7 linked regions of the Homo sapiens genome follow. The protein of the gene in region 3 purifies or fractionates together with the protein of the main gene of each other region. This does not show direct contact. Each region holds a gene or a part of one and is shown on either strand. Other genes may lie near its edges. The genes, in order: SPTAN1, CEP43, RABL2A, SLK, VPS13A, TBC1D9B and SEC23IP.

What was found.
Region 1: the proteins of RABL2A (region 3) and SPTAN1 fractionate together in Homo sapiens (co-fractionation; one large-scale study listed by BioGRID). This does not show direct contact.
Region 2: the proteins of RABL2A (region 3) and CEP43 purify together in Homo sapiens (affinity purification with mass spectrometry; one large-scale study listed by BioGRID and IntAct). This does not show direct contact.
Region 4: the proteins of RABL2A (region 3) and SLK fractionate together in Homo sapiens (co-fractionation; one large-scale study listed by BioGRID). This does not show direct contact.
Region 5: the proteins of RABL2A (region 3) and VPS13A purify together in Homo sapiens (affinity purification with mass spectrometry, with the first as the bait; one large-scale study listed by BioGRID). This does not show direct contact.
Region 6: the proteins of RABL2A (region 3) and TBC1D9B fractionate together in Homo sapiens (co-fractionation; one large-scale study listed by BioGRID). This does not show direct contact.
Region 7: the proteins of RABL2A (region 3) and SEC23IP purify together in Homo sapiens (affinity purification with mass spectrometry, with the first as the bait; one large-scale study listed by BioGRID). This does not show direct contact.

What each region holds. Positions count from the first base shown.
Region 1 is NC_000009.12:128,625,587-128,629,086, reverse strand, and holds part of SPTAN1 (spectrin alpha chain, non-erythrocytic 1), read right to left. Parts: intron 3,319-3,500; coding exon 3,109-3,318; intron 2,697-3,108; coding exon 2,400-2,696; intron 2,084-2,399; coding exon of another isoform or gene 1,997-2,083; intron 1,702-1,996; coding exon 1,589-1,701; intron 1,163-1,588; coding exon 1,145-1,162; intron 1-1,144. UniProt on the Homo sapiens protein: Fodrin, which seems to be involved in secretion, interacts with calmodulin in a calcium-dependent manner and is thus candidate for the calcium-dependent movement of the cytoskeleton at the membrane.
Region 2 is NC_000006.12:167,044,397-167,047,896, reverse strand, and holds part of CEP43 (centrosomal protein 43), read right to left. Parts: 3' UTR 1-3,500. UniProt on the Homo sapiens protein: Required for anchoring microtubules to the centrosomes. Required for ciliation.
Region 3 is NC_000002.12:113,625,837-113,630,065, forward strand, and holds the start of RABL2A (rab-like protein 2A), read left to right. Parts: upstream 1-1,429; 5' UTR 1,430-1,564; exon of another isoform or gene 1,565-1,632; intron 1,633-1,778; exon of another isoform or gene 1,779-2,717; 5' UTR 2,718-2,770; coding exon 2,771-2,877; intron 2,878-4,229. UniProt on the Homo sapiens protein: Plays an essential role in male fertility, sperm intra-flagellar transport, and tail assembly.
Region 4 is NC_000010.11:103,965,959-103,969,939, reverse strand, and holds the start of SLK (STE20-like serine/threonine-protein kinase), read right to left. Parts: upstream 2,801-3,981; 5' UTR 2,195-2,800; coding exon 2,045-2,194; intron 1-2,044. UniProt on the Homo sapiens protein: Mediates apoptosis and actin stress fiber dissolution.
Region 5 is NC_000009.12:77,317,034-77,320,533, reverse strand, and holds part of VPS13A (intermembrane lipid transfer protein VPS13A), read right to left. Parts: intron 2,929-3,500; coding exon 2,836-2,928; intron 2,300-2,835; coding exon 1,943-2,299; intron 963-1,942; coding exon 861-962; intron 1-860. UniProt on the Homo sapiens protein: Mediates the transfer of lipids between membranes at organelle contact sites. Binds phospholipids. Required for the formation or stabilization of ER-mitochondria contact sites which enable transfer of lipids between the ER and mitochondria.
Region 6 is NC_000005.10:179,869,898-179,873,397, reverse strand, and holds part of TBC1D9B (TBC1 domain family member 9B), read left to right. Parts: intron 1-149; coding exon 150-279; intron 280-407; coding exon 408-506; intron 507-1,867; coding exon 1,868-1,936; intron 1,937-2,902; coding exon 2,903-3,143; intron 3,144-3,500. UniProt on the Homo sapiens protein: May act as a GTPase-activating protein for Rab family protein(s).
Region 7 is NC_000010.11:119,920,230-119,923,729, forward strand, and holds part of SEC23IP (SEC23-interacting protein), read left to right. Parts: intron 1-659; coding exon 660-755; intron 756-3,500. UniProt on the Homo sapiens protein: Plays a role in the organization of endoplasmic reticulum exit sites. Specifically binds to phosphatidylinositol 3-phosphate (PI(3)P), phosphatidylinositol 4-phosphate (PI(4)P) and phosphatidylinositol 5-phosphate (PI(5)P).

The sequences.
Region 1 (3,500 bases), on a different chromosome or scaffold from region 3:
GAGGGGAGGCAAGAGCACACTGCAACAGACACACACAAAGCCCAAGCTGGCAGGGCGCAGGCAAGGGCAACCTGGTGCCCGGCGGGTACCTGGAGGCAGCAGGCCCAGTGGTTCACCCCAGGCAGCTCACACTAGGAATGGGCAAGATGGGCAGGGCTTGGGAGGAGCCATAAGGTGAGGGGAGCGTGGCACCTCACGGAGACAAGAGCAAGACCAGCAGACACAGGCATGGGGCAGGGAGGGGAGTCAGGTGGCCAGGGTGTCCTACGGGCACAGGCCGGAAACTGCGATCCCTACGTCCCCAGCTGCTCTGCCATCAGAATGTGTGGCCCGGCTGGATGGGTCTATTTCTCCCCTGGCCGCCTATACAGGCTTGATGTGCCTGGGTGCAGAGCCTCAGGAGTGCAGGCCAAGCCACTCCAGTCCCAGCAGCCCTGGCTTTCACAGCAGGCTTGGCAGATTACAAAGGTGACCCGGCCAGGCAGAGGCCCCAGGCCAAGCAGAGAAGTCCCTGCCGGGACTGGGCGGGACAGCCCAGCCCTGCTCCTCCCTGGGGCTCCTCCCACGTCCTGTCTATCACATAACGGGTGCATTTTTGCCTTCTATTAGGGCGGACAGTCTTGTTACCCTCCCTGACCCCAGGAAAGTAAAGTGGCAGCCTCAGCTACTTAGGGGGTGTCAGTGCCCAGCCCTTCTCAGCTGTGGACTTACTGTACCCTGCCTGAGCCCCCAGCACTGCCATCTGCTTCATGCCCACTGACCACTGTTGGACTCGCTGGGGAAGCAGAGGTGAGAGCCCAACAGAGCCCGGTGGCTGGACAGGCACGGGGGTTCTTAGGGCCTCTGGACTCCAGCTCTGGCCTTCGTGCTTCATCACCTTCCCTACCCAAAGTGAGCCCTTGGAATCGCCCAGTGAGGCAAGGACGGCTCCCCCTGGCTTGAAGGCTCTATCGGGGACCAGGGACCATGGGCTATGGGGCAAGGCACACACTCCTCATCAGGTGACGAGAAGGGTGGGAGGGGAAGTGCAGCCCGCCCTGGGCAGGAAGGCCCATCCCGGGATCCTCCACAAGCCAGGCCACGAGGGGCAAGCGCACGAGACCCCCACATGACAAGCCCAGAGAAGGAAGAAAACAATATTAACCCATCGAGGAGGTATGTCCTGTGGAGAGCAGATCCAAGCAGCCGGGAGACAAGGTGGTGTCCGGACAACAGCAGCAATCGGGGGGACAGAGAGAAGACACAAGAAAGAAAGGAAAACAAAAGCAAGAACATCAGTACCCAACGCACAGACCCTGCATCGTCTGTCACCAAGTCATGGCTGGGGCTGACCACGCGCCCTGCATGGTCCCACTCAATCCGGGATCTCTAACAACTTGATGTCTGGGACATGCAGCACTGAGAGGCTGCTCCACCTATGCCCCCACTCCCGGCTCCAGAGCCCGACCAGGCGTTGCCAGCCCAGCTTTATTCCCAGGCTGCCTCTGGTTTTACACAAAGCACCACCACCTCCTTGGGGCTGGAAGCTCCCCAGGGCTTAAGTACAGCAGGGACATGCTGCTGCTCCCCGGCCCCAGCGGGCTGGCACCTGGTCTCTTGGATCCACTGGTGGAAGGCGTTGGCGTGCTGGGCAAACTCCTGGCGCAGCTTGTCGTTCTCCTCCTGCCGCCGCTGTTCCTTCTGCAGCTCCAGCTCCCTCTCCTGAGGGCCAAAGGGGGGCAGATGCTGTGCGCTGCTGTGGCAGTGACACCAGCCCCTCCTTCACAGATGGGCTCAGGGTGGTGGTGGCCTCCCCACAAGGAACCTCCCCAAAGATGAGAGGAGGAGGCTGGGAGACATGAGGCCGGCTCAGAGCACTTGGTAGTTCTTTCTCTGTTCCCACCCCCCAGGGGCTTCAAGGAAGAGGCGGACCTGGAGGGAAGCGACTGGTCAGTCAAGCAGGGAGTTGCTGGACTGTCAGAAATGGAAACTTCTGGCTGGGTACAGTGGCTCACACCTGTAATCCCAGCACTTTGGGAGGCCTGGGCAGGAGGACTGCTTGAGGCCAGGAGTTGAAGACCAGCCTGGGCAACATAGCAACACCCTGTCTACAAAAATTAAAATAATTAGCCAGGCGTGGTGGCACGTGCTTGTAGTCCCAGTTATTCAAGAGGCTCAGGCAAGAGGATCACCTGAGCCTGGGAGGTTGAGGCTACAGGGAGCCATGGTAGCACCACTGCACTGAAGCCTGGGTGACAGAGACCCTGCCTCAAGAACACAAAAAGAAATGAAACTTCTGATGAAACCATGCTCCTCCATCCTGCTCGTCTTGTCGTGACTCAGTTAAGTGTGGGCTCTGAGCAGGGCCCAGAGAGGGCTCTGGGAGGCCGAGCAGCTCCTGAGGGCAGCGGGAGGTGTACCTTGATGATTTTCTGTAGGTTCCTCCAGGTCTCCTCCAGGGCCTCCATGGTAAACCAGGTGTAGGGGTTGGAGGCTACGCGGAAGCTCTTGATCTGGCGGTCCAGCTCGGCCAGCTGGTTGAAGTCAGCCTGGGCAGAGCTGAGGGAGGAGCGGAAGGCGTCGTGGGCCTCGCGCAAAGCTTTGATTTCTTCCAAGGAGTTGCAGCGCACGGGGTCTGTTAAGTCCTCCTCTGCATTTTCAAACCAGCTGTTGAAGGCAGAAGCCTTTTTGGCGAAGGTCAGGAAGAGGTCCTCCACCTGGAAGCAGAAGAGACTGAGTTGGCGGAGTCGCCAGGGCTGGACGTGCCGACGCAGTGCAGGAGGTGGGGTGCGGGGTGGTTCCTGGGAATCAGAGGCGCACACAGCCTGCTGGGAGCTTAGCTCCCCTCTGCTCCTGTCTCCTGCTCCCCCTTCAAGTCTTCACCAGCCTTTTTTCCCCTTCCTACCCTTTGCCCTTGTCTCTAGTCTGTCCTGCGTGCTTCTGAATGGCGATCTCACAGGGCCCTCTCATTTGCCCTGGTTTTAATTGATGCCAGCCACACCCATGTTTGAAAGCTCTGCACTGAGCTCACAGCTTCCTCAAGGGGGAGTGGCAGAGCTGGGCAGACAGAAGGTGGGCGTCCTTCCTTGAGCTGTGGGCCAGCTAAGCTTCACGTGGCCCCATCCTCACCTTGCGGAAGTGACTCTGAGCCTCCAGAAGCTTCTTCTTGCGGGCGGCTGAGTTGGCCAGAAGCTGGCTCCACCTCTTCATGAGGGAGGCGTGCCGGGCCTCGATGGCCTTGGACTGAACGTGTTTGGCGGCGAGAAGCTGATCTTTGAGGGCAGTGATGTTGGCAATGCCTTCCTGCTGGAAGGCCTGCAGCCCAGCGTCAAAAGTTTCCTGAACAAGGAGTGACAAGCCAATTTGTGGTGACTCCACAGGACTGGAACTTGCTCTTCCTAGGCTCAGATGGCACCAGCATGTCCCCCAGATGCCCAAGCCAAACTGTCCACCTGGACACTGCTGAGACTCAGTCACACATGCCCCCTTTCCTGCTCTCCTTCAGACCGCAGATCACTGCG
Region 2 (3,500 bases), on a different chromosome or scaffold from region 3:
TGAAAATCCTTTTCAGTGTAAACACTTACGGCATCCACCGTGAGGTTCCTCTGAGTGGTAGTGGAGTCAAGACCAGAAATCCATGGTTTCTGATTCTGTGTCTCATGTTCTTACCACATACCGCTAACAGGGATATGAGAAAAAAGCTGCCAGGTCATAAAAATACATCACAGTAGCTCGGCGCGGGGCGAGAGCTTTGAGGAGGAAGTGACATCTGAATTAGGTTTTGAAAGGGGAACAGACATTCATCAGAAACTGAACAATCATCCGAGAAGTATTCTCTCTTCTCCTTACTCTCAACATCTAGTTAAGACACTAAGTCCTGTGAATCTTACCTTCTTAATAAAAATAGTATTTACTGAGTACTAGTGACTTGCCAAGAACAATGCTAAGCTCTCTGTGGGCATTACTTAAGACCAGGGCAGCCCTGTAAGGGAAGGAAGTATTTAATCCCCTTTACAGATGAGAAAACTGAGAATACTGATATTAAATAACTTGCCCAACATCACTCAGCCAAGTTGCCCATCCAGGCTTCTAGCCACTGTAGTGGAGTTGCATGATTTACATTCAATTACTCTGCTTTTCCGTTTTCCTGCACGTGCCTGCTGCCCCGACAGCACCTCCCTGTCAGTAGGGGACCCCTCCTGTCTAGGGTGGCCTGTGCTCCTCCCTCGTGATTCTATGAAGGCTGCCAATCATGGGCAGACCCCATCAGCCCATCAGTTTTTCAGGTCCCAATGTTCAAATTTCGCATTGAACATCCCCTCTCTGAAGAAGGTTTGCTCACACCTTTACATCCCCATGCAGAGCACACAGGCATTCTCCCAGCCAGGTTTCCACGTGGACATTGCAGGCAGCGCCCCCTATTCAGCACATGCTGGAGAGCCAAGTGCTTCCATGGTCCCCACTCCTAGGGGTCACAGATTGGGCTCCCCAGGAAGTGGACTCTGACCCCCAGAGATTGAGTTTCCTGCCAGGAGTTTATCAAAAGTGCCCCAGAAATCAACGCCTGCTGGAAGCTAGAATTGCAAGAGTAACTTGCCAGGCAAGCTCTCAGGGAGCTCTGGAGCCAGAATGGACTCAGGCTGAGAGGGCCGGGCCTCTTACCCTGAGGCAGAATGGTCGTTGGATGGAGCCCCCTGAGAGGGCCTGGCCTTGGTGACATAGGTCTCTACAGTGGAGGCCATCCCTGGAGAGGCCATGAGAATGCCCACAGCAGCCAACAAAGCCCTTCACTGAAAAGGGATGTGGTGGCACATCACAGGATGGGGCCACCTCTGCATCTGCAGGTGGAGTGGACAGAAGAAATCAGCCAACTGCTTGTTGAAATGTACGGAGTGTTAATTTGCATAAGCAGTTCTAATTTAGAAATTAGGCTAAGAAATTCCATTTCCAAGCCTGTAGTTTAACTCCAGAAACACACCTTCTGCCAGAACTTACTACAAAGAGGTTTAGGTTTGCAGGAACAAATGGCTTTCTTCATTCTTTCCCTTCCTTCCTTCCTCCTTCCATTTTTCCCTTCCTCCATTCCATTTTCCTTCCCTTTCTTCCTTTCTCCTTCTCTCCCTCCCTCCCTTCCTTCCTTCCTCTTTCTTTCTTTCTAGTGTGATGGATATTTTCTTGGAAATGTGTGTTAAGTTGGGGTAGATCAAATAAGTGAACCCTGCAATAAATCATGACAAATAAAAATATTGGAGAATGTAATTCACGCTCAGATATGATCTGCCATATATACCTAACCTCTATAAATGTAATTAATATATAATTAATATATTGACACATAATAGTGTATGTTAAAATGTAAAGAGAAAACTAGAGGGAAACGTGAAGTTCCAACACTTACCGGCAGGGAGAGCACTGCCCCTTGGTGGAGCAATGCCCGCAGCAGGGATGAACCCATGAGAGCTGCTAGAAAAGGCCTGGCACTGGGGCAGTAGGGGTGCTGGGGCAGGAGAGGCGCATGGGCAGTAGGGGTGCTGGGGCAGGAGGGGATGTGCAGGATGAAGCATGCTTCATTCATTAAAAATTTTCCTTTCAGAAAGCTACTAGTGCTTTAGAAACCACAAAGGATTTCAAACAAAGTATGATTAAGAGGTATATCCAATAGTCTGGCAACTTACAAAACATGCCAAAATCGTTTTTTCGTTGTTGTTGTTGTTTTTGAGACGGAGTCTCGCTCTGTCACCCAGGCTGGAGTGCAGGGGCGTGATCTGGGCTCACTGCAAGCTCCGCCTCCTGGGTTCACGCCATTCTCCTGCCTCAGCCTCCCGAGTAGCTGGGACTGCAGGCACCCACCATCGCACCCAGCTCATTTTTTTTCTGTATTTTTAGTAGAGATGGGTTTTCACCATGTTAGCCAGGATGGTCTCGATCTCCTGACCTCGTGATCCGCCTGCCTCGGCCTCCCAAAGTGCTGGGATTACAGGCGTGAGCCACCGTGCCCGGCCCAAAATTGGTTTTTAAAGAAAATACAGGGCTGGGTACAGTGGCTCATGCCTGTAATCCCAGCACTTTGGGAGGCTGGGCCGCGGGGGGGGCGGGGAGGGGTGCGGATCACCATAGGTCAGGAGTTCAAGACCAGCCTGGCCAACACGGTGAGATCCCGTGTCTACTAAAAATACAAAAAAAATTCGCCGGGCATGGTGAAACACATCTGTAATCCCAGCTACTCAGGAGGCTGAGGCAGGAGAATCGCTTGAACCTGGGAGGCAGAGGTTGCAGTGAGCCGAGCTAGTACCACTGCACTCCAGCCTGGGCGACAGTGACTCAGTCTCAAAAAAAAAAAAGGAAAAAAAAAATACAAGTGTCTGAAAATTTAACATTTATGGAAAAAAAGTTTCATCATCAAATCTGATGATTCTACAAACTACCAAAAACAAACCTCCAGCTAAAACCGCAGAATGACTGGCCTCCTGCATGCCACTGTCCACGCTCCTCCATGCAGTACCTCCTGCCTCCACCCGGCCCACTAAGCTCAGGCCCCAGGCATGCCCTCTCCTCTTCCCCGGTTCTTGGGAAGCCGGTCTGGTGTGCAGAGGGCAAACCTTGCCCAGTGCTGCTGTTAAACTAAGAGGCAGAGAAGTGGCCAAGCACAGCATGTGCTAGAAGCGGGGCAGGAGTTGGGAGCCCGGCCCCTCCTCCCAGGGCTGTAGCAGAGCACACGTTTCTGCAGGCAGGGCCACAACGCAAAGTCGGATGACACGAGGGGCCAGCTCGACCTTACCTTGTTCGGGGGTTCATTTTCTAAGGGCAGCAAGATTCATTTTTAAAAACATGTATCAGGGAATAAATTTCACATTCAAAAACGCTGTCCCTCCTACCTCAGAGGCCTTGCTGTTTCCTTCTGTCTGCCACTCTCATTCACCCGGTGCACACCCAGGTTTCCTTGAACCTGAGGACACTTTTCCAATCTGACTTCCTCGGGGAAACTTTGTCAGCCTGGAGGTCCTCTGGCCAAGTCTCCTGGCGCATCTTGTCATCTTGGTCTTCTTGCTAAACAT
Region 3 (4,229 bases):
CCTCACTAAGATAGGTGCATATCTGATTCCCTGCTTTGGAGAGGCTAATCAGAAACTCAAAACAATGCAACCTTTGTCTCTCACCTACCTGTGACCTTGGAAGCCCCCTCCCTGCTTCCAGTTGTCCCCACCTTTCTGGATGGAAGCAACGTACTTCTTACATATATTGATTGATGTCTCATGTCTCCCTAAAACCAAGCTGTGCCCTGACCACCTTGGGCACATGTCGTCAAGACCTCCTGAGGCTGTGTCACGGGTGCACGTCTTTCTAAATTACCTGAAACCATCTCAGATAGGGTTCACACATCCCTTTCCCGAACCCTCCCAGGAGCCCCTCGTGGGCGCCCAGGTCCTGCCTGCTGTTGTGGCCCAGGCTCACCTGGAGCAACTCGACTCTTCGTTACAGCCTCGTGAACCTTTCAGTTCCTAAAGCTGTCTAGCCTGTGAAAGGAAAATGAATCTGGGGGCCCCAAAATCACTAAGCTAAAGGGAAAAAAGCTGGGAACTGCTTAGGGCAAACCTGCCTCCCCATCTATTCAAAGTCACCCCTCTGCTCACTGAGATAGGTTAATATGTGATAGCCTCCTTTGCGGAGGCTATTCAGAAACCCGAAAGAATACAACAGTTTGTCTCTCACCTACCTGTGACCTGGAAGCCCCCTCCCTGCTTCGAGTTGTCCCGCCTTTCCCGAGGGAACCAACGTTCATCTTACATATATTGATGTCTCCTGTCTCCCTAAAATGTATAAAAGCAAGCTGTGTCCCGACCACCTTTGGCACATGTCAAGACCTCCTGAGGCTGTGTCACGGGCGTGCGTCCTCAACCTTGGCAAAATAAACTTTCTAAATTGACTGAGACCGTCTCACATATTCGAGGTTCACAAGCCCATGCATGGGGACGTCCCCTGGGGTAGCGCCCCTCCTCCACTGAGCTCACTCGCTTCCTCCTTGTGTGTTTTCTTCAGAAGAAATTTCACAGCTACTTGGTCCACACCTGTCTGCCCCACAGGAACCTCTCTTCTCCACAGGCACATGGGCGGCGTACCTGCTGGGCTGTGTGGAGAGGACCGGGTTCCTCTCCTGATTCCTGCTCAGTTAATAACGAATGTCGACAAGTCGAGAAAATTGCTCAAATTTACCCCATCAAAGAATTAAAAACTGGTGAAAGCTTGACCTGCGCCCCCCACCCCTGACGTGCTCACCGCTCCACTCCCTCTAGGCGGGCGGCACCCGCTGAAGCCTCAGTACCACACCCACAGCCAGGAGCCCCAGTCCCGCACTCGGCCGCATGCGCACTCCCTGCGGCCCTCCCGCCAGGCGCCGCGCTGGGCAGCCAGCGCCCCGGCGGGGTCCTTCAGGCCTTCGGCCGGGCAGCCTCCCTCGGGGTCCTTGCGCGGTTGCGTAGCAGCTGCGAGGACGCGGGGCGAGCCGGAAGTGGAGTGCGCTGCGGTGCGAGCTGGGCCGGCGGGGTGGTTCGAGAGCGCGCAGAGTCCAGACTGGCGGCAGGGCCCGAGGGGCCGACCCGCAGCGTCCCTGGTCTCTCCAGCCCTCACTCGGAACCGCACGTGAGGGCAAATCCGCCCCGGTGGCTGGCTTAGCACGCGGGGACAGCCCCTCCGAGGCCTCCCTAGCGGTGTGGGCGAGAGGGCGTCCGGGTCGGGGGAAGCACGGAAAGGTGGCTTCGCGAGGCTGTTGTGGGGGGCGGGACGGGCAGCCTGGCGATGCCTGGACATGGTTGGTGGCCAAAAACATTTATCGAAAGATAGCATACCCACTTAGATGGCGAGGACATCGACAAGCAAGTCTTCGCCCGTAAGCGGTGGCTCACGCCTATAGTCCAGGGATGCCGAGGAGGGAGGATCGCTTGAGTCCAGGAGTTGGAGGCTGCAGTGAGCCGTGATCGCGCCACTGCACTCCAGCCTGGGCGACAGAGTGAGACCCTATCTCTAAACAAAAGAAAGAACGTCTTCAAGCATGGAGCCATGAAGCTGGATTTGGCTTTCTGTCGCTCTCTCTACAGGGTACAGGTGAAAGGGGGCAGACCCCTCATCATGCTTTCCAGGCATCTGCCACTTCCCAGGAATTGTCTCCCTGGATAAACAAGGCGAAGTCCCTGGCTGTGCAGAAGCAGTAGCTGTGTGGTGGCACAGTCAGGAAAACTCGGGGGCCCTGTTGGTATTTTCTACCCCTGACCCGTGTGCATACTTCTGTCGTAGCTCTCACCACAGTAGACTCTGCTATCATTGTGTCTTCCATCCTCTGAACCCTGTGCAAGGTCTGCTCATGGTGAATGCCCAGTAAGGCTCACCTATTGCTGCTATCTCATCATCATATCATTTCTATGTGCCCCCCTAGCTAAGAGTCTGGACTGTGGTTACATTCTCAGGAATGTCTGCAAAGTCATATTTAGGTGTGAGGAGAGTAAAACAGAGCTAGACATAATGTTGCACACAGCCTTTGGCACTGGATGCCTGGTGAATGTCTTGTGCAAATGGGTAACGTGAGGAGCAGCATTTGGGGTGCGCAGGACTTAACTATTTGTGTATAACATATTACTGATGCCTGTGTGTCATCCTCTGCTACTCCAAGTCTAGTAGCCAATTGCATACCATATCTCAGTCTGGCACTGAGGGAAGCAGTCTGGATGGAGGTACAGCTGGAGATTTGGTTGAGGGGACTTATCTCTGACAACAGCCTCTTGTTGATCTTCCCAGACAGTGACAATACCCTCCCCTCCCTTGGGCTGGACCCCTCTCTACAGCTAGGAGCCAATGGCAGAAGACAAAACCAAACCGAGTGAGTTGGACCAAGGGAAGTATGATGCTGATGACAACGTGAAGATCATCTGCCTGGGAGACAGCGCAGTGGGCAAATCCAAGTATGTTGGGAGATTAGGGAATAAATACCAGCCCCAGAGAGGGTCCAGGTCATTTAAAAAGTCCTCCAGAGGCAGAGGAGCATGGCTTCTTGGGGCTGGTGAAGGAGCAGTCTTGGCTGGAGCCCAGATGTTCATGGGGGAACGAGGGGAATCACATGACCCGTTGTGTGTGTCGGGTGGAGGGGGCAGGTCATAAGGACTGAGGAATTTGAATGTTTCCTCTGAGCCCTGAGAGAACGTGTGGAGCAACTGAGGACATTGTATGTGGTTTGTGGGCTGAGGGATGGCAAGGGCGGGGAGTGGGAATGGAAAGACAAAAGTGACTATGCCACCGTGACAGATTGGGTAAAGGTGGTAAAGATGCTTTCTTGGAGGGACTCTCTGAAATAGAGAAAACTGGGTAGAACTGACGATTGACTATAATCATTGTGAAGACTGGCTTCTTCTTGTAATGAATTTCGGTGCCTACATGCCACCTGGAGAGGTGAAGGGAGGCTCTGCCGTGCTGCCAGCTTGTCTCCATGAGACGTCCTAGTTCTCACGCCTAGGACTGCTGAGGGCACATGTCCATTTCCGCCTTCATAGCATGACGGTACACTTGCCCCTGCCCAGAGAAGTGGTCACGTTTATCTCCCAAGTACTCCAGGCCCACCTTGGTTTCTACCTTCATTTTTATAGTCAAGTCCTTTGACTCAGGTAGCTGTGAATAATTCTCTGGGGGCTTTGCTGGTTTTTAGGCCATCTCCATGAATTTGAATTCTCTGTCTCTCTCTCTCTCTCTCTTCCCCACCACACAATCACACACTGCAGCTCTGGTTTAGAATTTTTTTTTTTTTTTTGAGACGGAGTCTCGCTCTGTCCCCCAGGCTGGAGTGCAGTGACGTGATCTCGGCTCACTGCAAGCTCCGCCTCCCGGGTTCACACCATTCTCCTGCCACAGCCTTGCGAGTAGCTAGGACTACAGGCGCCCGCCACCACACCCAGCTAATTTTATTTTTGTATTTTTAGTAGAGACGGGGCTTCACCTTGTTAGCCAGGATGGTCTTGATCTCCTGACCTCGTGATCCGCCCACCTCAGCCTCCGAAAGTGCTGGGATTATAGGCATGAGCCACCGCGCCCGGCCTCTGGTTTAGTATTTTATAGTTACTTTGACCATCCTCAACAGCACGCCTGTACAGTAAAAGTGAGGGTAGGTGTTGTAGTTTGGGAAGGTTACCCAATAAATAATACCCCCTTTATCCCCACTCAAGTTTAAAACAACAAAGAATAGAAATGGCAGGCAGGTGTAGAGCAAATTGCCACTTTAATAACAAACAGAGCTTTCGGAGAATGTATCTTGGTATACCCAGCT
Region 4 (3,981 bases), on a different chromosome or scaffold from region 3:
TAATCACCTACCACCTTCTAACTACAAGATTCTAGGTGCCTTGAGCATTTATTTTTGCCTTTCCAGGCTAATTACATACTCACAGAACTTTAATGGGTGAAAGAATCTAAACTCCTAAGAAAGTTAATATTATGGCTAAGAAAACGGAGGTCCAGAGAAGTTAAGTGTTTTGTCCAGGATTACAACGCTGGTTTGTGACAGCCAGCACTAAAACACAACTCTTGATTCCCAGGAGTGATCTTCCCACTACAATGAAGCCTTGCATCTTATGAAGCTCTTGCTGAAGCCCATACTCTACCCTCCACACAAATAACAAAGCTTATTTTGCCAACTTCCACAGCCTATGATAGCTTCCACGACAGCATTCATATGCAGACAAAACACATTCTTTCATTTCAACAAATAAACAGACACATCACTATACGCTAAGGCAGTGAATGAACCCAAATATGTATCATAATTTTGGCCCTTAATTTTATTATAGAAACATAAACATATTAATTGTAATAAGTGACAAGTGCTATAATAGCCATGTGAACAACGTGTTCTGAAAGCACACAGAGAGGAGTAGATATTTTAGCCTGGATAAAGAATGAGGACTGGGGTTTTGACAAGATGCATTTGAGGCAGGGCAGAGGCAGAAGTGTAATGGTGCTTAGAAAGTAGTAGGCAGCCGGGGACGGTGGCTCACGCCTGTAATCCTAGCACTTTGGGAGGCCGAGGCGGGCGGATCACCTGAGGTCGGGAGTTCAAGACCAGCCTGACCAACATGGAGAAACCCTGTCTCTACTAAAAATACAAAATTAGCCGGGCATGGTGGCGTATGCCTGTAAACCCAGCTACTACGGGAGGCTGAGGCAGGAGAATCGCTTGAACCCGGGAGGGGGAGGTTGCAGTGAGCCGAGATCGCGCTATTGCACTCCAGCCTGGGCAAAAGGGGCGAAACTCCGTCTCAAAAAAAAAAGAAAGTAGTAGGCAAAATGCTCTCATTTCTACCAGTGACTGTTAAAATAAAAAACAATACTAAATATGGGCTCAGAAGACCTGAGTTCAAGTCTAGGCTGAGACTCATGTGACTGTGAACAATTTCAATATCTTCATCTGTGAAATGTGGATACTAATACTGACCTGCCTACCTCACAAGATTTTTGTGGGGGCCAAATTATTTGAAAGTACTTAAAAACTTCAAAGTCCTGTATAAACATAAGTTATTTTCTTACGTTTTCACTTCTAGGCAACCCTGTGGGTCCTTCCCCTAAACGCTGTCTCATAAAAAATTCGCCCTTCAGGATGAAAATACTCCAATGACATCATTCATATGTTCCTTAGGAGATATTAAATAGTTAACATTAATGCCTTCAGGTTGAAACGCCAAGCCTCTTTCTATTGAAATAAATACATGCGTGTGTGTTTTTAACTGCTTAAGCGCTGATACTGACTTCTAGTCAATGCTTACCATAAATATATTTAAAACTAGTACCACATGAAGGTTTTTTGGAAATTTTGTCAGAAATTCCATTCTATTTTATAGTATGCTGTCAAGCAACTAACTCAAGAAGAGACTGCAAGTAGCAATCACTTTGATCCCAACTAGTTCTGTATTAGCTCTAGATACAACCAAATATATATACTGGACCCTAAAAACAGAACTGTTGGAGTACAAGCATGCACGCGAATGCAGTCAGTAGACAAATCCACTGCAAAGTGCAATGAGTTTCTCATTCTAAAATACTTGAAGGGCACAACCAGACCCCTCCTATAAATTAAAGAACACTCTCATTTCCTTTGAAGTTTGAAAGAGTAGACTTTATAACCCTGTCTCCTTTTCCAATCGCTCTTTAAACTCCATCCAGGCCCCATTTTGTTCCACCGTAAACCCGACTTCTTAGCTACTCCTTGGATGATCAGCCAAGTAAAGTTGCATCGAACCGTAACAGTCAAAAGAAGGACAGGATAAGGACCAGGGGAGCAGAAGTCCTCCCGCCACTCCAGGCCAGTGGCTGTTTTACCTTCGCAGTACAACTTCCCGTTTTCCCCCTCTTACCTTGTACACTTTCCCAAAGGCTCCGTCGCCCAGTTCTCCTATAATCTCCCAAAAGTCTTCGGGGTTCAGGTCCCTCTTCACGTGTTCGTACTGCTTCTTCTTCTTCTCGCTCCCCAACTTGAAGATCTTACGGAAATTGAAGAAGGACATTTTTCCTCCCAACACAGAGTTCCTTGCACTTAAGGACTAAAAACAATAAAAGGCAAAGTTTCTCTTCCCTGCTCTCCCGCGCGAGCCCGGCTGGCGGCGGCGGGCGCGGCGTCCCTCGGCCCCCGCAGCTCCGGCCGGGCGGTCCCGGGAGAAGGCGGGGCGGCGACCCGGGCTCCGGCCCGCGGTGGGGGTGCTGCGCGAGCGGCCCCTCCGCCGAGCCCGGCCCGCGAGCCGCGCGGTGGGCGCCTCGCCTCCGGCCCACCCTCCGGGAGCGGCACCTGCCCGCAAGCTCGCTCCCACCCGGCCTGATCCGACGGGTCCGAGCGGTCAGGACTCCCGCGGCGGCGGCTTAGGCCCGTGTCACGGCGAGTCTCCAGGGGCGGCGGCCACTCTGGGAGAGAGAAGCGGCCGGCGGCCTCGGAGGCGGGCAGTCGAGAAGCCGAGCCCTCCCGCCTCGGGCCGCGAGCCTAGGGTCTCCTCCGCCGCCGTCCGCTCCCGCGGCGCAAGGCCCGCGCGTCCCCTCGGGTCTGGGGCGCCGCCGCCGCCGCCTGTCTCCCTCCCCAGCCCACACAGCCTCGGCCTGGAGCGCGCGCCGACGCCGACTCCGTAGCGCGCCCGCGCGCTTTCCCGGCTGCGCGCCCGCCCGGTCACGCGCCCTGCTCACCGCGCGCTCGCGTGGGGGCGTCCCCTCTGGCCCCGCGCACGCGCGCTACGTCCCTCAGACTGGCTGCCCCCGAGGGTTCGCGTGAGCGGAGCACGGGGCTCGGGGTGCGGGGGGCTGGTGTGATGGACGCATTTGTTCTTCGGTCCCTGACGATTGTTTCTCATTTGCCCTCCAAGCCCCAAATCCTGTCAGTCCACGGCCTTGATGGAGCGGCCCCCGTGGGACGACCCTGTTGATTGTGCTAGCGGATGTTGTCTCCATTCTGGATCTGGGAAAAACTGTGGAGTGAAAGCCGGACCTGTTAGGGTTGGGACCTGAAAGCGGACTTTTTCGCTCTCAGACGGGCCCCAGGTACAGTGAGAGGGGAGTTTGTGTGGTGGTTGTGAGCTTGAGCTTTGGAGAGAGAGATCTGTGACCTTGGGCAGGTGACCTCTCCGAGCCTCGGTTTCCTCGCCGTAAAATGAAGATCCTAATAGTCCCTACCAGAAGGTTGTGAATGAGACAATAGATGGAAGCCCTTTGCGCGGCCCCTGCACCCGTAAACGCTCAATCTTAGTTCTTACTCTTGTTGTTTTAAGTGTGCAGGCAAGATAGACACAGATACATAAAAACTGTTTAAGACCACTTCTCTTTTTTTTCTTTCTTTCTTTTTTTTTTTTTTTTTTTTTTTTTGAGACGGAGTCTCGATCTGTCGCCCAGGCTGGAGTGCAGTGGCGCGAACTAGGCTCACCGCAAGCTCCGCCTCCCGGCTTCACGCTATTCTCCTGCCTCAGCCTCCCGAGTAGCTGGGACTACAGGCGCCCGCCACCACGCCCCGCTAATTTTTTTGTATTTTTAGTAGAGACGGGGTTTCACCGTGTTAGCCAGGATGGTCTCGATCTCCTGACCTCGTGATCCGCCCGCCTCGGCCTCCCAAAGTACTGGCGTGAGCCACCGCGCCGGGCCCCCACTTCTCAACTGATGACTGCGACACTCCCTTGAGGGTAAAACTAACTTCTGGCCACCTCCACAACTGTAAACCTGGTGTCACTCTTGGTGACTCCACCTCAGCTAAGGCCCCCACTTCCTGATCTGCCTCCAGCCCCCTTGGGCAGCACTCCCTGGTGGGGCAGTGTGGACGTTG
Region 5 (3,500 bases), on a different chromosome or scaffold from region 3:
TGAAAATCTGTCTGCAGGTTGACCAAGTCATTATTAGGTAGGAAACACGTGAGTAATTCTGCAGTCTCTTGCTTCAGAAGCAAAATTTCATCCACCTAAAGGCCCCGATTCTCATGATTATATAAATCCACAATATATTTCAAACAAATAATATACATTCCTGCACACATGCAAACATCCAAAGGATGAAGGAAACTCAGGATAGACAACAACCTACAAGATGATGACACAGGCATTATAGCATAGTGGTTTAGAGTGGATTTAACGCCTCTGCAGCTGGATTTGCATCCCATCTTTTCCACTTTGTAGCTATTATTACTTCAAGAAGTCTCTTAACCTCCCTGGTCTCAGTCCCTTCACATGTTAAATAAAAACTGTATCTACCTCCAAGAGTTGTTGTAAGGATTAAAATATTTAGAACAATGTCTAAACTGTGTTCTAAATTATGTTCTAAATTGTTCTAAATTATGTAACAAGTAACATAATACTTGTTACATAATTGTATTAGAAGCATAGGCAACATTGGCCTTAGATTTGAAAATTATATTCAGAGGGCAAACAAGGAAGCATGTGGGCAAGGCTCATGATGAGACAACCTGAACCTTGTTGTGATTAAAATAAAGTGTCGAGTGTGGTATAAACATTCTCAATTTTGGAAAATTTTTTCAGTCTTCAAATATACGTTGATGAGGGAATGTTAATAAAGGGGGAGGCTATACATGTGCAGAAGTAGGTGGTATACGGGAAATCTCTGTTCCTTCTTCTCAATTTTGCTGTGAACCTAAATCTGTTCTTAAAAAAATAAAGTCTTTTAAAATACATATATATATATATACACACATAGACATATATAGATATACCTTGATACCAAGATTCCATGGTCTAAAATCCTCAGTCTGATCAATTTCTAAGGGTTCAAGCAAAGGCTCCCATACACCAAACATTTCATTATAATAATGCACCTACAGAGAGAATTTTTTAAATTAAAAATGATCTTCCATCCTGTTTCCCACCATGTTTTTTAGCCCTGTTATTTCTTCTATATAAAAACCAGTCTACATGCCATTCAGTAGCTTCCTATAAGCACTCCCTCAGCATTTTCCTCACCTGGCTAACTTCATAGTACATATTCGCTCTTCACAATTTAGTCCAGATAAAACCCCTTTTTAAGCATCTTTCCTTGATTCTACATTACATAAAAGTATAAGGCATATATTTCTAATTCTTCATATTTCTATTAGAAGAGATTATTATCCACATATTCAGAAATTCTGTCTATATCCTTAAAAAAAAAAGGGTATTCAACTTTAACTCTTTTCTTTTCTTTTTTTTTTTTTTGAGTCTGGGTCTCACTTTGAACCCCAGGCTGGAGTGCAGTGGTAAGATCTCAGCTCACCACAGCCTCGACTTCCCAGGTATTCTCAAGTGATCGTCCACCTCAGTCTCTCGAATAACTAAGACTACAGGTGTGAGCCACCACCACTGGCTAATTTTTTGTATTTTTAGTAGAGACAAGGTTTCACCATGTTGCCCAGGCTGATCTTGAACTCCTGGGCTCAAGCGATCCTTCTGCTTTGGCCTCCCAACGTGCTGGGATTACAGGTGAGCCACTGGGCCTGGCCTCAATTTAACTCTTTAAAAAAAATATTCTGAATCTAATCAACAACTGTCGAATAATATATTATCTTTAAGTTGATAAAATCAGTTGAAATATAAACTTAATGTGGACATGTACTTTAAAAGTAAAAGGAATGTATACATAAAAGCAATTATTCAAGGGCAAAATTTGAAAACTTTTTTCTAAAAGTTTTTGACCCAATATCATATTTACAATAAGCTTAAATAGCTACACAAGATTCCATAATATTCCATATGTATCATTATCTGTCATAATATTCCATACGTATCATTATCTGTTATAAAACTGGAAAAATATGCTTACTTCTAGCTCAAGCTGACAGTGCAGATTTATTAGGGAACTCCAGTTTTTGCCTTCCCCTGAAAAACGTGACTTTGCCAGAAGCATAGGTACTGTTCTATGACCAATTCCAGCCTCAAGAACTATAAAAATAGAATCAATGTTCATTTTTATCATCTCGCCTTTGGGTACCAATTCAGTTGTGGGAGCTATTTTTTCAGTTTCATTTGATTCTTCAAGAAACCACATTTTTAAAGTCTTTGTATCCTTCTTTTCCCATAAATGTGCAGTAGAAGAAGCCGTTTCTTCTGGGATGGTTTCCTTAGTTGTATACAGTGCTGAAGTTATGGTAATCATAGTATTTATAATAACTGGTGAAACCTAAATGGAAAAAAATTAATAAGTCTATACAAAACACTTTCAAACATACTACGTCAAGAAATATTAAATATATATTATGAGAAATTAAATACTGAATTAACATTACTACCACAAAATAGAAGATACAATTTATTGTTTATAAAATTTTTTAAATTACCATAATTCTTGTTATGTGTTTACATGAATCTTGCAGATATTTACATGAATCTTGCAGATATTATTCCATGAATTACATGATATTATTAATATACATGAATTGCAGATATTATTAAACTGATGAAGTATAAAGTAATTTCAATAATATTTATTAGGGATATTAGATGTTAACCACACAAATGTAAATAATAAAATATAGAATAACATTCATAAAATGTGTATTAAATAATATTACTTTGTAAATATCTCATAAAAACGTATTTTCAAAAACACACCTATTTTGTTTGCATAACAATTAAAAGACTTGCTATAATAACTTTCTAGGCTTTACTACTTTTTTTAAGTGCACTAAATATTCAAATGATTATATTTTAATTTACCTTTAGTGTCAGGGATTTTACTGACATATCGATCACTTGTGGATCTGTACCTTTCTGAGTAGTTTGATAAAACAAGTCACAGGGCTGCAAAACCTATGAGAGAAAAATCAATACCACTAAATTAATGTTTAAATATAAAAATATTTCTATTTAAAGACTTTCCTAGTAATAGGTATGTCAAATAAACAAGTTAATAAAAACAACTATTTAAAAAGTGACTTAATAATACACTCCTTAATTATCCCATATAAAGGACATCTAGAACCTAATATCTGTTCTATTCTTCCACAGTAATAGAAGTTTTATCTGAGCACAAGGTAGCTCAGAAAAAAATACCACAGTCTCCAACCTTTACTGAAGTAAAGTGTGGTCATACAGCTATATTCAAGCCAAAAAAGATGTGAATAGAAGAAATATATATTTAAAACTTCTAAGTCAAAAACTAAGAGAGAATTGGTATACCCTCCATTTTCTATTCTCTCTCTTTGCTTAGTGGAGGGCCAACTGTCTTGCAAATTTGGGCAACAGTTTATCTTATATCCTAATATATATGTATTCATTGTATCAAAATTACATCTTATATTTCTATGGTGACAATGTTTAGAACATTTATGCTTCTATAGATGCATACCAAGCATCAGGAAAAAAATACAAAGAAACAAACA
Region 6 (3,500 bases), on a different chromosome or scaffold from region 3:
CCTCTGCCCTCCTGCAGGGTGCCCAGTCCTCTGCACACTCCTTATTAGGAGTCTGCATAAAGATTGGGTCCCTCCGCATCACCCAGCTGTGGGAAGGAGGCTCCCTCTGCCTGGGCGTGGTCTGGACTGTTGTCCTCTGTCCTTTGCAGATACCTGGATAATGTGGTCAACAAGCAGAGTGTCTCTCCTCCTATCCCGCACCTCCGTGCCTTGCTGAGCAGCAGCGATGACCCCCCTGCAGAGGTGGACATCTTTGAGCTCCTGAAAGTGTCCTATGAGGTCAGCACCCAGTGGGGCCATTTTGGCCAGGCCGCTCCATCTGGCATGTGGGTTGGGGTGGCTATGGGCAGGTGGTGGCCCTCTGCCCTGCAGTTGGCTTGATCTCACCAAGTCACCTCTCCCTATAGAAATTCAGCAGCCTGAGGGCCGAAGACATTGAGCAGATGCGGTTTAAACAGAGGCTGAAAGTGATCCAGTCCTTGGAGGACACGGCCAAGAGGAGTGTGGTATGGGTGCCAGCAGGGCTGGGCAGGGGCTGGGCTGGGGGGGCAGCAGTGCCTTCCCCACAGAGCAGGGTGGGTACAGGGCTCCACCGCACCCAGTCTCCTACACTGCTTTGGTATGTACATCATGGTAGGATTCATGGGACCGGGATCCAGGGGTGTAGGTGGGAATGTGGGGAGAGGTTCCAGTCACTTTTCTCTGCTGGTGGATGTGTCACCGGGAAGCTTCTCAGATGGCTCCCACCCTGAAAGCCACATGCCCAGCCCTCTGGGCCGAGCCCGCCCAGCCTGGCTTCCCATGTGTTCCCTGCCCCACTCCCAGGTAGCAACATGCCGCCATCCTCCGCACACCCCAAATGGCATGTGTCTGCCACAAGCTGCTGTTCTCATCTCTAGAGGGGCCAGGCCCTCCCTGCCACCCTGTGCTGCAAGACCTGTTTGTGGTCTCTGCCCCCAAAGGCAGGGACTTCCTCCATTGTTTCCACATTCCCAGCCCTCCTGCAGGCTTGTAGGACACTGTAAGGACATTGGGTCGCAGCACCACAGACTGACTGCTTTGGCCAATTAAAGTACAGGAGCATTGGCTGGCAGGTTCTCGGCCTCCTTCCACAGAGCTGGCACCAGGGTCTCTGCAGGGATCCAGATGACGGGAGCCAAATGAGTATCCCTCACTCTGCGACCTCAGCTGCACGTTGAGGACAGAGGCTCCCCCACGCCCATCCTGGGAAGGGGCCCGGAGTGTGAGAGAGAGGCTCCCCCACGCCCATCCTGGGAAGGGGCCCGGAGTGTGAGAGAGAGGCTCCCCCACGCCCATCCTGGGAAGGGGCCCGGAGTGTGAGAGAGAGGCTCCCCCACGCCCATCCTGGGAAGGGGCCCGGAGTGTGAGAGAGAGGCTCCCCCACGCCCATCCTGGGAAGGGGCCCGGAGTGTGAGAGAGAGGCTCCCCCACGCCCATCCTGGGAAGGGGCCCGGAGTGTGAGAGAGAGACTCCCCCACGCCCATCCTGGGAAGGGGCCCGGAGTGTGAGAGAGAGGCTCCCCCAAGCCCATCCTGGGAAGGGGCCCGGAGTGTGAGAGAGAGGCTCCCCCACGCCCATCCTGGGAAGGGGCCCGGAGTGTGAGAGAGAGACTCCCCCACGCCCATCCTGGAAAGGAGCCCGGAGTGTGAGCTGAGTGGTAGGTGGGGGGCCAGGGATGGGCTGTGGGCCTCGCTCTCTCCCGAAGGGTCCGCCCTTGAGTGCTGGGCCACTGAGAGGGCGGTTCACACCCTTGCCCTTGTCTGCCGAGGATGCTCTCACAGAGTGCCGTACTTCTGTGCCAGGAGCTTGTGATCCAGCTATATACCCTGTTTCTCCTTCCTTCTAGGTCCGAGCTATACCTGTGGACATTGGTTTCTCCATTGAAGAGCTGGAGGACCTTTACATGGTGTTTAAGGTGACAGCTCAGAGCCAGGGCAGGACCCGTTCCTAGCTTCCTAGCTTCCTGCCAGAAAAGAAATGGATCTAAGAGTATCCTCTTAGAAGTAGATAGAAATAGGGAATAGAATAGAAAAACAGAAACAGATCTAAGTGCATCCTCAGATGCAGTTGCCATGAACCTCCTGTGGTAGAATCGAATCCCTCTTGGAGTTTAGGCAGGACCTCTTAAATGGCAGCAAATCCATTCAAGTCATCTTACACAGAAGAGGGAATACATTGCCCCTGTATTGCTAGACTGAAAAGTCTAGCAATGCACAGCTTCAGGCATGGCTGGATCCAGGTGCTGAAATGTGCCGTCAGGCTTCCCCATCTCTGATGTCCTCTGCACTGCTCTTCCTACACCATGCCAGGACTGTCGTCACAGCTCCAGGGTCATACTCTCTTCTCAGTAATCCCAGTGCAAAGAGAATTTTTCTTTCCCTTGTGCTTTTAGCAAAAGACCCAGCCTTAATGGTTGGAATCTGCCTTTCTGTTGTTGTTGCCAGTTCCCGTCCACCTCTCCAGCTGCCTCAGGTTCCGTGCTCAAGGTGGCTGCTGCGCTGTGGCCCTAGCGTCACAACAGTTGAGCCAGCTCTGCCTGCCTCCTAGAGAGGTCATAGGAGCGAGAGCAAGCCTCAGGCCTCTTGTTTCCCTGGAGCCCTGCCAGGAAGGCTCAGCCCTTCTCTGGGGCCAGCAGACCAGCTCTGCCCCCTGCAGGCTGCCAAGGACTCTGTCTCTCAGCCAACCCCCTCCCCATCTGTTAACAAGGGGCTGATGACAGCCTGAGAGCTTTCGGGAGGTGCTGCAGTGTCTGGCCCGTGCTTACCGCCCCAGGGCTCCGCAGGCTTGGACAGAGGGGGAGGGTGGACACACCACCAGCCTAGGGGTCCCCTCGACCCACAGGCTTAGCGGCTGGACCGTCTCACCAGACCGTGTCCCACAGGCCAAGCACCTGGCTAGCCAGTACTGGGGGTGCAGCCGCACAATGGCCGGCCGTCGGGACCCCAGCCTGCCCTACCTGGAGCAGTACCGGATTGATGCCAGCCAGTTCCGGGAACTCTTTGCCAGCCTGACACCCTGGGCCTGTGGCTCCCACACACCTCTGCTGGCAGGGCGCATGTTCAGGCTCCTGGACGAAAACAAGGACTCGCTGATCAACTTCAAGGAGTTCGTGACAGGGATGAGTGAGTGCCTGCAGGGCCTACCAGGGGCTTGACCCTCCCTCACCCTTTCCCAGGAAGCCTCCAAATGCCAGCATCTCCTGTCTGTTCCCCCTGCAGCAAGTAGGGGGCAGCTTGAGCCCCTGGCCCTAGATACGGGAAGAACAGTTTACCCACGGGAGCCGAGATGGGGTCCAGCAGGAGCCTTGCCCGCTCCCCTCCCTCATGCAGTCTGGGGCTGCTAGAAGCTGGTCTGCCAGCCCCAGGGAAGGGCTGAGCCTTCCCAGCAGGACGCCAGGGAGACAGGAGATCTGGGACTCACCCTGTGACCTCTCCAGGAGGGAGTTGGGCAGCACAGGCTGTGAAGAGGGTCCTACTCGG
Region 7 (3,500 bases), on a different chromosome or scaffold from region 3:
CATCAGTTTCATTGCCAGGAATATTTCCTATAGAGAAATATTCAAACAAGAATTATCTACAAGGATACTCACAGCAGTGTTTGCAAGGTAACAAAACATTAGAGACACCATTGGTGTTGAGGAGTAGGGTGCTAGTGAAATCATTTATGGTGCATCCGCATAACGGAGTACCCTACAGCTGTTGAATGAATGATGCAGTGTCAGAGATACCCGTCTCTAAGGTACATTTACATGAAGAGAGCAGAGTTCATTACTGTGTGCATAGTAGAGCACACACACAGAGAAAAACATGTAAGTGCTATGCATACATAAGACATCGCTTCAAAGAGAGCAAGTTTCCACAGTTGCGCTGAGAGGAGAATTCTATGTTTGGGACAGCAGTGGGAGGAAGATATTTCATCGTATGCTTGACTATAGCTTTGGAATTTTGTATACCATATGTGTATTTTCTGTTAATTAATAGAATGATTTAGGTGTGGAAGCCTAAGATTTTATAGCCTAAACTGATGCATGATTTAAATACAAAATAACTAACTTGTAAAAAGTTGAGTGGCTCTTAGATTGCTTTAGATGATGTGGTTTCTTTATAATTTTCATATTCTCATTTCAGTTCTTCTATCACTAGATTGATTAATGTGCTTGTCTGTTTCCTTTTAAAGCTTATGTGTACAGTTGATGACCTGAAGGAAATGGGGATACCCCTTGGACCCAGAAAGAAGATAGCTAACTTTGTAGAACATAAAGCAGCCAAACTGGTAAAGTTCACCTCTGACTCAAGAAAAACTAAAACTCATGGTGTGACCAGCTCGTTTATATTATAGAAAATTTTAATACTACTATGGTTAGGTAAGCTAGTTTGCTCCCTACCTAGGGCACAGTAATGGAGCTGATGGAAACCCAGACTTAGGAGTCAGAGTTGGGCTTAAGTCCACATTAGGCTAAGTGACCATCCTGGTTTTCCTGGGACTAAGTTCCTAGGATGAAGGGCTTTCAGTTTTAAAATGGATATTTAAGGTTTTCCTGGTGCAAACAGTGGTTAAGTTCTGACAAATAAATTCTCAGCTCAACTGCTCATTAACTGCGTATTAATGAGCAATTTGTATTTGGTTTTATTCATTTGTTTATTTTGAGATGGGATCTTGCTGTGTTTCCCACTGCTGGTCTCAAACTCCTGGGCTCAAGCTATCCTCCCGCCTCAGCCTTCTGATCATGAGTGATTTTCTTAATTTTTCTGATCCTTTGTTTTCTTCATTTCTAAAATGGAATAATACCTTCCTTACAGGATTGGAGTAAGCATGAAATAATGCATGCAAAGCTTAGCACCAAGTAATAGCTCACTTTCTTCCCAGTCCTTACCATCTAAAGAGATGAGGAAAAACATACACACTGAAGTCTTAAACACTAAACAGCAAAAATTGTTAACAATACAAAACAAGGCAACAGCTAAAAAGCATTTAAAACTAGAACAACTGGAAAATATACTTGTTTTATTAATTTTAATTTATTGATCAAATTAATTTTACAGAGGTTTTCTAATTAGAAAAATTAGATGACTCTTAGGGTGGCCGTCTTATTTGTATTGTTATTAACATGCTCTTTGATGATCCTTCCATCTTTTGAATTTCTATGGTTCTATTATTTTACTACCTGTTTGGAACTTAACCTACATCATTTCTTTATATGGGAAATGACTATAAAGTCATAGGACTGATTTTTTTTTTAATGGTTAGCTTAAGGAATTGAGTCTTCTCAGCATTTTATTGAATAGCAGCTACCTCTTTTGAGTCAGGCACTGTGTTCAATTCTTGGGAGCCGGAGATTAACCAAGAGTGTGCTGTCTAGTTGCGGGGAGCACGTTGAGCTCAAATGACAACATACCAGCCCCATAATAGCGTGCTGTGTGTGCTGTCCTGAGGCAGATGAGAGGTGGCAGTTCTGGCTTGTTGAGACAAGCATGGGGTTGGTGAGAGAAGACTTCTCCAAGGTGATGGTGCTTGAGCTTGAAGGAGGGGTAAGGTCAGGGGAGATGGCCTTCTGGAATCTGGCATGTGTTTTCCTGTAGCATCAGGGAAGCTGGAAACTGGGAAGGGCAGAGGGTTCCAAAGGCCCAGGTGGCAGGTGTGGAGGCTTGGATTTTCTCTTGTAAGGGAGTGGTTTTCAAACATGTTCTTATGGCCATGAAAGTCATGGTGTTTTTAAACATTACAAAATGCTGACCTGCTTATTCTATCACAAGTTATGATTTAGCACCAAATCATCTGTGTAGTCTAAATTTTAATTTTAACTTTTGGACTGTGGAGAGTTTGCTTGGTCACAGTGCACAGATGAAGTTGGAAAGGCGTGAAGTGGAGGCGGCTGCAATCTTACATAGTAGTAATTGTAATTGTACAGTGACTGAAAGAGAGATGATAGGGGTATAAGGTAGGAGGTGGAGAGGAAGGGAGCAACTCAAAAGACATTTTAGACATAGACAAGCAGTATTTGATTAAGTGCTGAGAAAGGTTATTAGTTTTGGCAGTTAAGAGGTATCTTTCATGTCATTTTTCTTGTGTGTTGAATCGTTCTGTAATTCCAATTTACAAAGAGCTTTTCATCTCACCTGAGCCTCACAACAACCCTGTGAGTAGATCCCCAGGCTTTTGTCTCTGATGAGCACAATAGTCAAACTGAGACTAGGACACAAGCATGTCAGTGTTGTTTCTGTATACAGGCTGCGTGCTCCATACAGAAAAATGCTTGTCTCCGTGTATACATCAGTGAAGCAAAAGCCTATAAAAAAAAAAACAAAAAAAACAAGAAATGAGAAGCTTTGTGTTCAGGCCCTACACCATGTTCTTAATTTATTCTGTAATGAAAGGGAAAAAAGTAGAAAAGGATTCTATAGTTCTTGAAGAATTTCTAGAAGGAGACTGGTTTATGGACTGCAGTTGCTTAGATATATAAATTATGGCATTATAAGAATGTTTTGAAATGAGCAAAAATCTATAGAGTGATCTTATTTTTTAAATTAAAAGGTAATTGCCTTTGGATGAACCATGAAACTTTCTCAGCTGAGTTGCCATTGATTGCTTTACACTTCTTACAGATAACAAGGTGCTACTAGATCAATACAAAAGTAATATGGTGTGTCCTGTTGATTTACTGTAACTGAAATAATGGGACCAAAATTAGCGATTATTTTATAACAAGGAGATCAAATATTTGTGATATTTGTGACTGTGTGCTTTTTTTTTCTTTTTAAAGCATCTTAGTAATTTTCATTTGAAAAGGAATTGTTTCTAGTGTTGGGGATATTGATAGTCAAGTATGTATATGTTGGTTCCGTTTTTTTTTTTTTGAAAGGGAGTCTTGCTTTGTCTCCCAGGCTGGAGTGCAGTGGCACGATCTCGGCTCACTGCAACCTCTGCCTCCCAGGTTCAAGCCATTCTCCTGCTTCAGCCTCCCAACTAGCTGGGATTATAGGCGTCTGCCACCACACCCAGCTAATTTTTGTATTTTTA